Linked DNA regions of Homo sapiens. The protein of the gene in region 3 interacts with the protein of the main gene of each other region in a pairwise test. Each region holds a gene or a part of one and is shown on either strand. Other genes may lie near its edges.

Evidence for each region.
Region 1: the proteins of NLRP12 (region 3) and CAP1 interact in a two-hybrid assay, tested with the Homo sapiens proteins (one large-scale study listed by IntAct).
Region 2: the proteins of NLRP12 (region 3) and FERMT3 interact in a two-hybrid assay, tested with the Homo sapiens proteins (one large-scale study listed by IntAct).

Annotation. Positions count from the first base shown.
Region 1 is NC_000001.11:40,064,591-40,068,241, reverse strand, and holds part of CAP1 (adenylyl cyclase-associated protein 1), read right to left. Parts: intron 2,028-3,651; coding exon 1,922-2,027; intron 703-1,921; coding exon 525-702; intron 1-524. UniProt on the Homo sapiens protein: Directly regulates filament dynamics and has been implicated in a number of complex developmental and morphological processes, including mRNA localization and the establishment of cell polarity.
Region 2 is NC_000011.10:64,216,633-64,220,283, reverse strand, and holds part of FERMT3 (fermitin family homolog 3 short isoform), read right to left. Parts: intron 1,034-3,651; coding exon 926-1,033; intron 761-925; coding exon 626-760; intron 545-625; coding exon 495-544; intron 406-494; coding exon of another isoform or gene 394-405; coding exon 269-393; intron 65-268; coding exon 1-64. UniProt on the Homo sapiens protein: Plays a central role in cell adhesion in hematopoietic cells. Acts by activating the integrin beta-1-3 (ITGB1, ITGB2 and ITGB3). Required for integrin-mediated platelet adhesion and leukocyte adhesion to endothelial cells.
Region 3 is NC_000019.10:53,817,709-53,821,359, forward strand, and holds part of NLRP12 (NACHT, LRR and PYD domains-containing protein 12), read right to left. Parts: intron 1,385-3,651; exon of another isoform or gene 1,176-1,384; intron 1-1,175. UniProt on the Homo sapiens protein: Plays an essential role as an potent mitigator of inflammation. Primarily expressed in dendritic cells and macrophages, inhibits both canonical and non-canonical NF-kappa-B and ERK activation pathways.

The DNA.
Region 1 (3,651 bases), on a different chromosome or scaffold from region 3:
GTTAGCCATTTCTCTTACAGTTGGATTTAGGTTGTTACACCATTTTTAGCTACTATGATCATAGATTCCTAGAAGTGGCTGGACAACTCAGACTTCCACCAGCTGTGTTAAGGGTATCTACTTTATACCAACATTAGGTCACTCTCATGCAAATTTTCCATGTAACCAGTATGCATCTTCTGAGGAAGTTAACTCCCTAACACAATGCCTTCCCAGAGGCCATGTGGTGCCACGGAAAAAGCTCTGGGGAAAACCGCCAGCTCTGTGCCTTGGCACAAGAGGGTCCTCTATATATGCTACCTAATATTAAGTCACTTTCCCATGGGGCAGATGGCTTCCTCCAACTGTGATCATCATTTTCAATTTCCATTTAAGCCAGCTTTGCCGTCCCTTAAAGGAACAGGACACACCAAACGAGTCTCCACCACACAAGCCAGGGTTGTAGTTTACAGACGGTTCTGGTTGGTGGGGTCTGGCCCACACAACTTGTTGTACCTACTGTTCGTGTCCAAGTGCTCACTCACCATGTGTAATGCTCTCCCCCTGATTAATCTGCGCGAACAGTGATGAGCGGGAAGCAGACTCATATGAGCATGAAATGGTAGAGACTGGGGGAGGAGGGGGGCATGGTGGAGGGGGAGGAGGACATGATCCGGCAGAGGGTCCAGATGGCAGTCCGCTCAGTTCTTTTGCCACAGGCCCCTGGAACAATAAGTGCAGGTAACATCATCATCCTCTCTGCTCCCCTCTGTACCATTCCCAGTAGTGCCCTACATGGGCCAGTGCACATGGGGTCCCCACCACAGCCTTTGAGGCAATGATTAATGTGTCCTACCCATACCCAACTTGGCTTTATGCCTTCTCACCCTTTCCCAAGGATCCAGCTCTCAGTTCTATTTCTTGACCATCACATTTTGCCTTTGAACTCACCTGATTCCAGCTCTAAAAACTATTTCCACAAATCTACTTGACATCTTCCTTAGTGTGTTACCAGTACCTCTGATTCAACAGATTCAAAACTGATTTCATCATTTCCTGCCGCTCCTCTCCCTGTACAATCATCCCCTTGTCCCTATTTCAGTGAAAGATGTTACTATCCAAGACTGACTATTCAATCTTCTTTGAGGATTCCAACTTCTTCGACCTTATCAAATCTCTATTATCTTGGTGCTATCTCCTGCAAATGTTTTTCTACTATCCCCCAAACACCATGACCACTTTCATAATCTGAGCATGAGTCCTTATCCCTAACCTATACACTGAGACTCTTTTAAAGACAAATTGAATCATTATCACTCCCTTGCTCAAATACCTCATCCCAAAGTCTCAGCCTACCTTCCTTTCCAGCCTTTTCTCCTAAAATTCTGATCATTTCCCCTTATTGAAGCCAGAGATGACCAATCTCTACATTTACTCTGCATGTATTTTGTTTAAGCTGTGCCTTTTGTAGTATCCCACTTCTCACTGCCCTATACTACTTTCAAGTCTCACAGAAGAGTATATACCTTCAAAGTACAATCTCTTCTAGTGAGAAGCACTCTTCTCTTCCTCATACTCTAGTCTGTATCTTTATTATAGCATTTGGCTTGGTGATTTGTATTGGGGTTTTGCATTCTTATTTTTAAGCTCCTTAAAGGCTGGGATAGTGTAACTCATTTGTGTGTGTCTCCTGCTCCAGCACCAATCACTGTCCCTAACATATTTATTGAAATTGAATACCACTGAATATTCCTTCTCCTCTGATCCTTGCTTCCTCTACTCTTTTTACCCTTTCTTTCTCCTCCTTTTCTTCCTCCCTTCCACTGAAAAAACTAGCATTCCCTCACAGACTTTGGTAGTGCTGAAGTCTAAGAAACCTGTGGACCCCATGCTGGAGAGAGAAAGTGGGAGGGAGGGAGGGAGGGAGGAAGGATTCACTAACCGTTTTGCTCCAGGCCAGTCCGGTGGTATGGAACTCCTTAATGTAAGCCTGCAGCTCTGTCCATATACTTAAATAAGCTTTGACCCAGTCTACATGCTTCTTATCCCTGGGAGGATTAAAGAAGAACTTGTCACAGGTGATCCGGGTACATAACAGTGGTGACTCCAGAACCCTTCTTTCCTATGGGCTCACATTCTCCTACCCGTGGTGTTTCTTAGGCTCCGCTCAATGGCAGCTTTTCTATCATCACCAGCTTCTATGTATATACAACCTAGTCTATTACCCTAATCAGACCAAACTCCACTAAGATAGAGACTCTGGATTCTATCTCTATCTCTCATAGCAATGTTTCTCAAACTGTTTTAAGTACCAAAACTTTTTTTTTTCTTTTGACCACTTGCTGCTTATTGAAACTTTTTTCAAAGTAGACCTTAAACACAATCTAATATGTAAAACTGATAAAAGCAGACATTCTGTGCATAAAACCATGGTAGAGAGGAGAGCTCTTAAGTATCACTGTGGAACTCTAAAGACTAAGAAACTTAACTGCCTTATGAGACAATGCCTTATGTCAAAATATGCCCACCCTGACCAAAAGCAAACTTAAAAACTTTCCCTTAGGGGGAAACAATCAGCCTTAAATTATAGAAATAGCATTGTGCCTACGGTTCAAGTCCCCTCTCTTCTTATGTATTAACTGGGAAGGTTATTTAGCCTAAGACCTAGTTTCCTCAACTGTAAAGTGATGGGATAATGGTGGGATATATCAAAACACTGTCATGCTTAATTCCATGTTGCTAGAAGGATAAGGAAGTGCCTGTTGTTCTGGGACACATTTCACTCACAGGAAGGTGTAGTTTTCCTTAAAAAGAGTAGTTAATAAATGTTTGTTGATTGATGAAGGATGGAAGAAAGGAAAGGCTTGTGTAGATATGCAACTTAATAAATTTTGCCTGCAATCATTCCAGCTCAAAACCAGCAATGGAGAAGTCAGAACTGGTAGACGTATGTGGTTAGACATGCAATGACTGCCCTACGTAATACCTGCATTGGCTAGGCAGCCTTACTCTCACTTTAACTGACTTCATGAAAAATTTCTATTAAGTCCTATTGAACCCTTTGCCATTGGGCCAGTAACAAATTCTCAACAAAGGAACAAAATCTTATATAAAGGGCATTAGTCCATGTTACTGCCAGCAAAACTTCCTAAACCCAGAAGGGTAAGGATCAGAAGACTAAAAGGGCCTCTACCAAAAAAGGAGAGAAAGCAGAAGTGGAAGCAGAAGTATTTCCTGCTTGCAAATGCAGCTGTGAGACAATATCTGTAAAGCTCTCCAGAAAGCAGCCCTGAGATAAAACCAGCACAGTGGCTAAGGGCAGCCCTCAGTAACTCCAAAGTGCTACTCCAGCAAGTAACCAAATGGGTTTATCCTTTACCCCTTGAGAAAAAGCTGAACTTGGCTGGGCACAGTGGCTCACACCTGTAATCCCAGCACTTTGGGGAGACCAAGGCAGGAGAATCATTAGAGACCAGCCTGGGAAACAGTGAGACCTCATCTCTACGAAAAAATTAGAAAATTAGCCAGGCATGGTGGAGCGTGCCTGAAGTCCCAGCTACTTGGAGGACTGAGGTGGGAGGATTGTTTGAGCTGGGAGGTTGAGGCTGCAATGAGCTGTGATTGTGCCACTGTACTTCAGCCTGGGTGACAACGCAAGACACTGTCTCAGAA
Region 2 (3,651 bases), on a different chromosome or scaffold from region 3:
GGCACTAGGAGTTTAATGCAGAACTTCTGGCCGGAGACGTTAACATCGGGAACCACCTCACAGCCTGGAGGGAGAGAAGGGGTGGTCTAGGAGGTCGGGAGGGGAAGAGCCGCCTGAGGTCCTGGAGTGCATCCTAGCCCACACCGTCACCTCAGGACAGAGGGCATCTTCCCCGGTCTCCAGGAGGAAACAGGGCCGGTGAGAGCATTCACCTGCCTAGCCCACAAGTGGGGATCCCCCCACCCAGCCCCTGGCCCTGTGCACTTACCCTTGAGGTTGAGCTGCTGAATGGGGTCCCCAGGGGCCTCGTCCTGGCTCTTGTAGTAGGACAGTGTGGTCTCCTTGAACACCACCCAGTGTTGGCGGTAGCCCTTCAGGGTCAGCTTCCGGGGCCTTCGTGGGATGCTGGGGTTTGTGAAAGGCCGCCTCACCCCCTCCCTCCATATGCAGACCAACCCCTCCAGCAGGGCTGCCTACTCTGGCCCCCAACTCACCGAAAGATTCGGAGATGGTCCTTGAGCTCTGGGATGGTGGTGAGGCTGTCCTATGGGAGGACCAGAGTCAGAGGGGCACCCGGTACCTCACAGTTCTCCCTGCCCAGCCCCTGCCCTGAGCCCCTCCTCACCAGCACATCTGTGGGCGCCGACCCCTCCAGCTTCACCTCCAGGTTGCTCAGGGCCACATCCAGGTCGTCCAGCCCTGGGTCTGTGCCAGCCGGCTCCCCCACCTCCCCGCTCTGGGACAGCTTGTTGATGTGGTACTAGGTGGTCATGAAGCCAGGGAGGGCTGAGTCCAGCAGCCTGGTCCCCTAGCAGTACCCCCAGGCCGGGCTTCCCTGGAGGTAGCCCCCACTCAGGAAGGCCCTTCCTGCCCTGGGACTGGCTCACCTCCCACCTGCCCTGGTGCCCCCAGGCCCGCCTGGTACCTGCAGGGCGGCAAACACCATCATCTCCTCCTCGGTGCAGTCAATCTCCTCCAGCAGCAGGTCCCACCGGGCCTGCTCATACAGCTGTGTCAGCCGCACGGGGTCTGTCTGGAGCGGGGGGAGAGGAGGCTGGAGGCTGGGCTGGTCAGATGCCAGCTGCCCTGGACGCCCTGCACTGAGCCCCTGCCAGCCTTGGCCCTCTGCCCTGCCCTCCTTGCTGAGGCAGATTCATTCAGTGGCCAGACATGGGCCACAGACCTCAACCCCATCCTTAATAGCCTGCTAGCCCCCTGCTGCCCAGGCCTGCACGTCTAAACCTTGGCTTGGTTGTGCTGATGTTTACTGTGTGCTGGCATGCTGCCCTGGGTGCAGGAGAGACCGAGTAAACCAATCAATAAGTCAAATAATCCAAGGCTGCAATAAACACTATCAAGGAAACAGTTTCCACAGGGAAGCTCACATGAGCCCTCAGTCTAAGGCCCCCCCAAGTTCAATGGAGATGACAGAATGGAACATGGGGAAGCAGTCAGGGAAGGCTTCCCTGAGGAGGTGACAAGCTGAGTAGAGATAGGAAGGATGACAGTGGGCCACTCAAGGGAAGCGTGAAGGAAGAGGATTCCAGAGAAAAGGAACTGGGAAGGCAGAGACTCCAAGAGGGGATCCCAGTTACCCACAGAAGACCAACAATCCCGCTGAAACTCACCCAAAATTGATAGCAAAGGTTTAGGAAGATAAACCCAAAAGGACAAAGGACAGGCCGGGGCGGTGGCTTGCGCCTGTAATCCCAGCACTTTGGGAGGCCAAGGCAGGCAGATAGCTTGAGCCCAGGAGTTTCAGACCAGCTTGGGCAACATGGTGAAACCCTATCTCTACTAAAAATACAAAAAATTAGCCACATGAGGTGGTGCGTGCCTGTAGTCCCAGGTACTCAGGATGCTGAGGTGGGAGAATCACCTGAACCCATGAGGTTGAGGGTGCAGTGAGCTGTAATTGCACCATTGCACTCCAGCTTGGGGGATAGAGTGAGACCTTGTCTCCAAAAGAAAGAAAAAGAAGGCCAGGCGCAGTGGCTCACGCCTGTAATCCCAGCACTTTGGGAGGCCGAGGTCGGTGGATCACGAGGTCAGGAGATCAAGACCATCCTGGCTAACACAGTGAAACCCTGTCTCTACTAATAATACAAAAAAATTAGCCAGGCGTGGTGGCGGGCGCCTGTAATCCCAGCTACTCAGGACGCTGAGGCAGGAGAACGGCGTGAACCCGGGAGGCGGAGCTTGCAGTGAGCCGAGATCGTGCCACTGCACTCCAGCCTGGGCGACAGAGCGAGACTCCGTCACAAAAAAAAAAAAAAAAAAAAAGGAAAAAGGAAATAATTTGGAAGATGGAGAGCAAACTGTAGATGGGAACTGGGTTATGCAGAGAGCGCTAGGGCCTCACGCCTTGTCCCTCTCCTGTCTGGTAAATCCACCAATGAGACTTGAAAATAGGCGGAAAGCAATCAGCAAAAAGAACAGAGATCTCAACAGAGGCATCCAGTTTGCATGGCGGACCCCTGGCAGGCTCTGATGGGGATCCTCTGGATGAGATGCGAGGGTGAGCTGAAGAGAGGACTCTGGATAAAGTCCAAGAAAAAAAGCAGGTCCCTCCCCAGCTCCATGCAGCCAAGTGATGGCAAGGAGACACCTGGCAGAAGCTGGGACTCACTCTCTGGAGATGCTGAGCCAGATGCACCCCTGCATTTGGTACCCCAGACACAGCTGGACGGGGTGGGGGTTGCACTAGGGTGAAAACAGACAATTTTTTTTTTTTAAGATGGAGTTTTGCTCTTGTTGCCCAGGCTGGAGTACAATGGCACGATCTTGGCTCACCGCAACCTCCGCCTCCCGGGTTCAAGCGATTCTCCTGCCTCAGCCTCCTGAGTAGCTGGGATTACAGGCATGCACCACCACGCCCAGCTACTTTTGTATTTTTAGTAGATACAGGCTTTCTCCATGTTGATCAGGCTGGTCTCAAATTCCTGACCTCAGGTGATCCACCTGCCTTGGCCTCCCAAAGTGCTGGGATTACAGGCGTGAGCCACCGTGCCCGGCAAAAACACAAATTTAAAGAAAGCTGGCATTCAGATGAGTGACACACCCACACCCTTTCCCACTTGTCACCCAAGACATTGGCAGGAAGCCTTCTATCTCCAGTTGAAAGATCAGTGGGGTTGCCACTGAGAGGCTGAGCCACCAGAGAAATGCCCGACAAAGAGTGGCAGCCCGGCCCCATCGCCTCCAGGGGGCCACCAAGATGCCAAGCCCTACTCACACACTCAGGGTCTCCAATTGGTTTCTTAGAGCTTCACTTTTAAATATGAATGGACAGGCATGGACTACCCACATTTAAGGAAAGCTTCAAGAGTGAACCATAGAGACCAAGACAACAAGAATAAAACAGCTTGGAGGAAATAAAGGCCAGGTAGGGCGCAGAAGAGAACTTCAAACGTGAATCAAAATCCTTGTAGAGTACAAAAATTAGCTGGGCATGGTGGCACCCGCCTTTTTTTTTTTTTTTTTTTTTTGAGATGGAGTCTCGCTCTGTCACCCAGGCTGGAGTGCAGTGGCGTGATCTCGGCTCACTGCAAGCTCCGCCTCCCAGGTTCACGCCATTCTCTTGCCTCAGCCTCCCAAGTAGCTGGGACTACAGGCGCCCACCACCACGCCCGGCTAATTTTTTGTATTTTT
Region 3 (3,651 bases):
CTAGGCAACAAGAGTGAAATTCCATCTCAAAGAAAAAAAGAAAAAGAGGGCAAATTTCATGTTTTGTGTATTTTAGCACTATTTATTTATTTATTTATTTATGAGACAGAGTCTCACTGTGTCGTCCAGGCTGGTGTGATGTTGGCTCACTGCAACCTCTGCCTCCAGGGTTCAAGTGATTCTCCTGCCTCAGCCTCCGGAGTAGCTGGGATTACAGGCATGTACAACCACGACCAGCTAATTTTTGTATTTTTAGTAGAGACAGGGTTTCACCATGTTGGCCAGGCTGTTGTCAAATTCCTAGTCTCAAGTGATTCACGTGCCTCAGCCTCCAACATGCTGGGATTACAGGCATGAGCCACTGCAGCTGGTTGGCAATTTTTTTTTTTTTTTGAGAGAGGGTCTTGCTCTGTTGCTCAGGCTGGAGTAGTGTGGCATGATCTTGGCTCACTGCAGCCTTCACCTCCTGGGCTTAAGTGATCCTCCCATCTCAGCCTCCCAGGTAGCTGGGTCTGCAGGCATGCACCACTGTGCCTGGTCAATTTTGTAGAGAAGGGGTTTTGCCATGTTGCCTAGACCAGTCTCAAACTTCTGGGCTCAAGTGATCTGCCTGCCTCAGCCTCCCAAAGTGCTGGGATTATAGGTGTGGCCACATTTTTTTTTTTTAAAGGTAATCCAGGCCAGCGCGGTGGCTCACGCCTGTAATCCCAACATTTTGGGAGGCTGAGGTGGGTGGATCATGAGGTCAGGAGATTGAGACCATCCTGGCTAATATGGTGAAACCCCATCTCTACTATAAATACGAAATTAGCCGGGCGTGGTGGCGGGTGCCTGTAGTCCCAGGTACTCGGGAGGCTGAGGCAGGAGAATCGCTTGAACCCGGGAGGCGGAGGTTGCAGTGAGCCGAGAACGCACCACTGCACTCCGGCCTGGGTGACAGAGTGAGACTCCGTCTCAAAAAAATAAATAAATAAAAATAAAAAAGGTAATTCTTGAAAATTGCAGCTGAAAAAGGCCTCAGAGATGTTCTCCCTCAGTGTTTCCTAGGCATGCCGCGAGAACCAGCCACATCAAAATGCAGATTCCTGTTGCCTAAGACCTGCTGATTCAGAATCACGGGTTGAGGGTCTTGGATTCCCCATTGGCCACAAGTGTCTCGAGAGACTCTTACGCACAGTAACATGAGAACTGCCGATCTTGCCTGATGCCCTTGTTTTACAGATGGAGATGGAGGCCCAGGGGCATATCGATTCTCCAGCATCACACAGACAGAAAGAGCAAAGCTAGACATCTGTCTCCTTGGGAACGCTGAGCTGCCTCTCAGTAGACTAAACGGATGCAGTCCGGGGAAGAACGCTCGGCAAATGGTTATGCATTGTCAATGCTGGGAGAGATTTAGGCGGAAGAGGGAGAAAAGTGGGACTTTACTTTTGATTCTATATTTGTACATTATTTCCATTTCTTAAAATAACTATGTAACACTTCCATTTAGATATAATTATACAATATGACAAGTAAGTAAATTGATACTTTTTTCTTTCTTTTCTTTTTTTGAGATGGAGTCTCGCTTTTGTCATCCAGGCTGGAGTGCAGTGGCGTGATCTCGGCTCACTGCAACCTCCGCCTCCCGGGTTCAAGTGATTCTCCTGCCTCAGCCTCCCAAGTAGCTGGGATTACAGGCGTGTGCCACTACGCCTGGCTAATATATATATATATATATATATATATATATATATATATATATATATATGTGTGTGTGTGTGTGTGTGTGTGTGTATATACATATGTGTATATATATGTATACATATGTGTATATATGTGTGTATGTATACGTATATATATGTATGTATACGTATATATATGCGTATATATGTATGTATACGTATATACGCATATATATGTATGTATACGTATATACGCGTATATATGTATGTATACGTATATATATACACATGTATACATATATGTATGTATACATATATATACACACACACACACGTATATATATATGTATGTATGTATATTAAGACGGAGTTTTGCTCTTCTTGTCCAGGCTGGAGTGCAGTGGCGGGATCTTGGCTCACCACAACCTCCGTCTCCTGGGTGGTGGAGAAAAGGGAAAGAGAAAAAGAGAGGAGAGGGAGAGAAAAGAAAAGAAAGGAAGGAGGGAAGGAAAGGGAAAAGAAGGGAAAAGAAGGAAGGAAGGAGGGAAGAAAGGCTACAAACAAGTGTCTTTGGTTTTTTCAGTCATTAAAGACTTTGTTTTTTACAGAGATGTTTCCCAGCACACTACTACTGGCACACCTCATTAACGACGAGTCATTAAGCTTTGCAGAAGTGACTGTGTATATCCAGTTATTGGCAGGGCTTGCTTACTCATTCAGCAAATGTTCACCAAAGTTTGCTCGGTTCCTAGCCCCAGCCAGACACTGGAATCGCAGAGAATCACACAGGGGAGTCAAGACTCTTTCTGCCTTTGAAGGCGTCCATGTCACAGTAGAGAAAACAGGTGAGAAATTACATTAAAAACCACAGCTCAAGCAGGGTGCAGTGGCTCACGCCTGTAATTCCAGCATTTTGGGAGGCCGAGGTGGATGGATCACCTGAGGTTAGGAGTTCGAGACCAGCCTGACCAACACGGTGAAACCCCGTCTCTACTAAAAATACAAAAATTAGCTGGGTGTGGTGGCACGCACCTGTAGTCCCAGCTACTCAGGAGGCTGAGGCAGGAGAATCACTGGAACCCGGGAGGCGGAGCTTGCACTGAGCCAAGATTGTGCCACTGCACTCCAGCCTGGGCGACAGAGTGAGACTCTGTCTCAGAAACAAAACAAAACAAAAAACCACAGCTCAAATGGGGCTCTGTGGTGCACACCTGTAGTTCCAGCTGTTCAAGAGGCTGAGGCAGGCGGATCACTTCAGCCCAGGAGTTTGAGTCTAGCCTGGGCAACATAGTGAGACCCTATCTCTAAAAAATAAATTATTTTTTTTTTTTTTGAGACGGAGTCTTGCACTGTCACCCAGGCTGGAGTGCAGTGGCACAATCTCAGCTCACCGCAAGCTCTGCCTCCCAGGTTCACGCCATTCTCCTGCCTCAGCCTCCTGAGTAGCTGGGACTACAGGCGCCCATCACTGCGCCCAGCTAATTTTTTGTAAAAAATAAAAATATTTTTAAAAAAACAATTCCACAGCTCAAGTGCCATCTCTGCCACTTCAGCAATAGCCTATATTTGCTGAGCACTTGCTACCTGCTCTGAATTGTGTTAAGCACTTTGCATGTATTATCTCTTGAGCTTATGCCTGAGTATAAATCATATTTTTTCTTTTTTTTTTTTTTTTTTTTTTGAGACAGAGTCTTACTCTGTCACCCAGGCTGGAGTGCAGTGGCTTAATCTTCGCTCACTGCAACCTCCACCGCCTGGGTTCAAGTGATTCTCCTGTCTCAGCCTCTAGATTAGCAGGGATTACTGGCGCCCGCCACCACACCCGGCTAATTTTTTTGTATTTTTAGTAGAGACAGGGTTTCACCATGTTGGCCAGGCTGGTCTCGAACTCCTGACCTCAGGTGATCCATCCACCTCAATCTCCCAAAGTGCTGGGATTACAGGCGTGAGCCACCGCACCCAGCTCATTGTGATTATTTTATGAGAT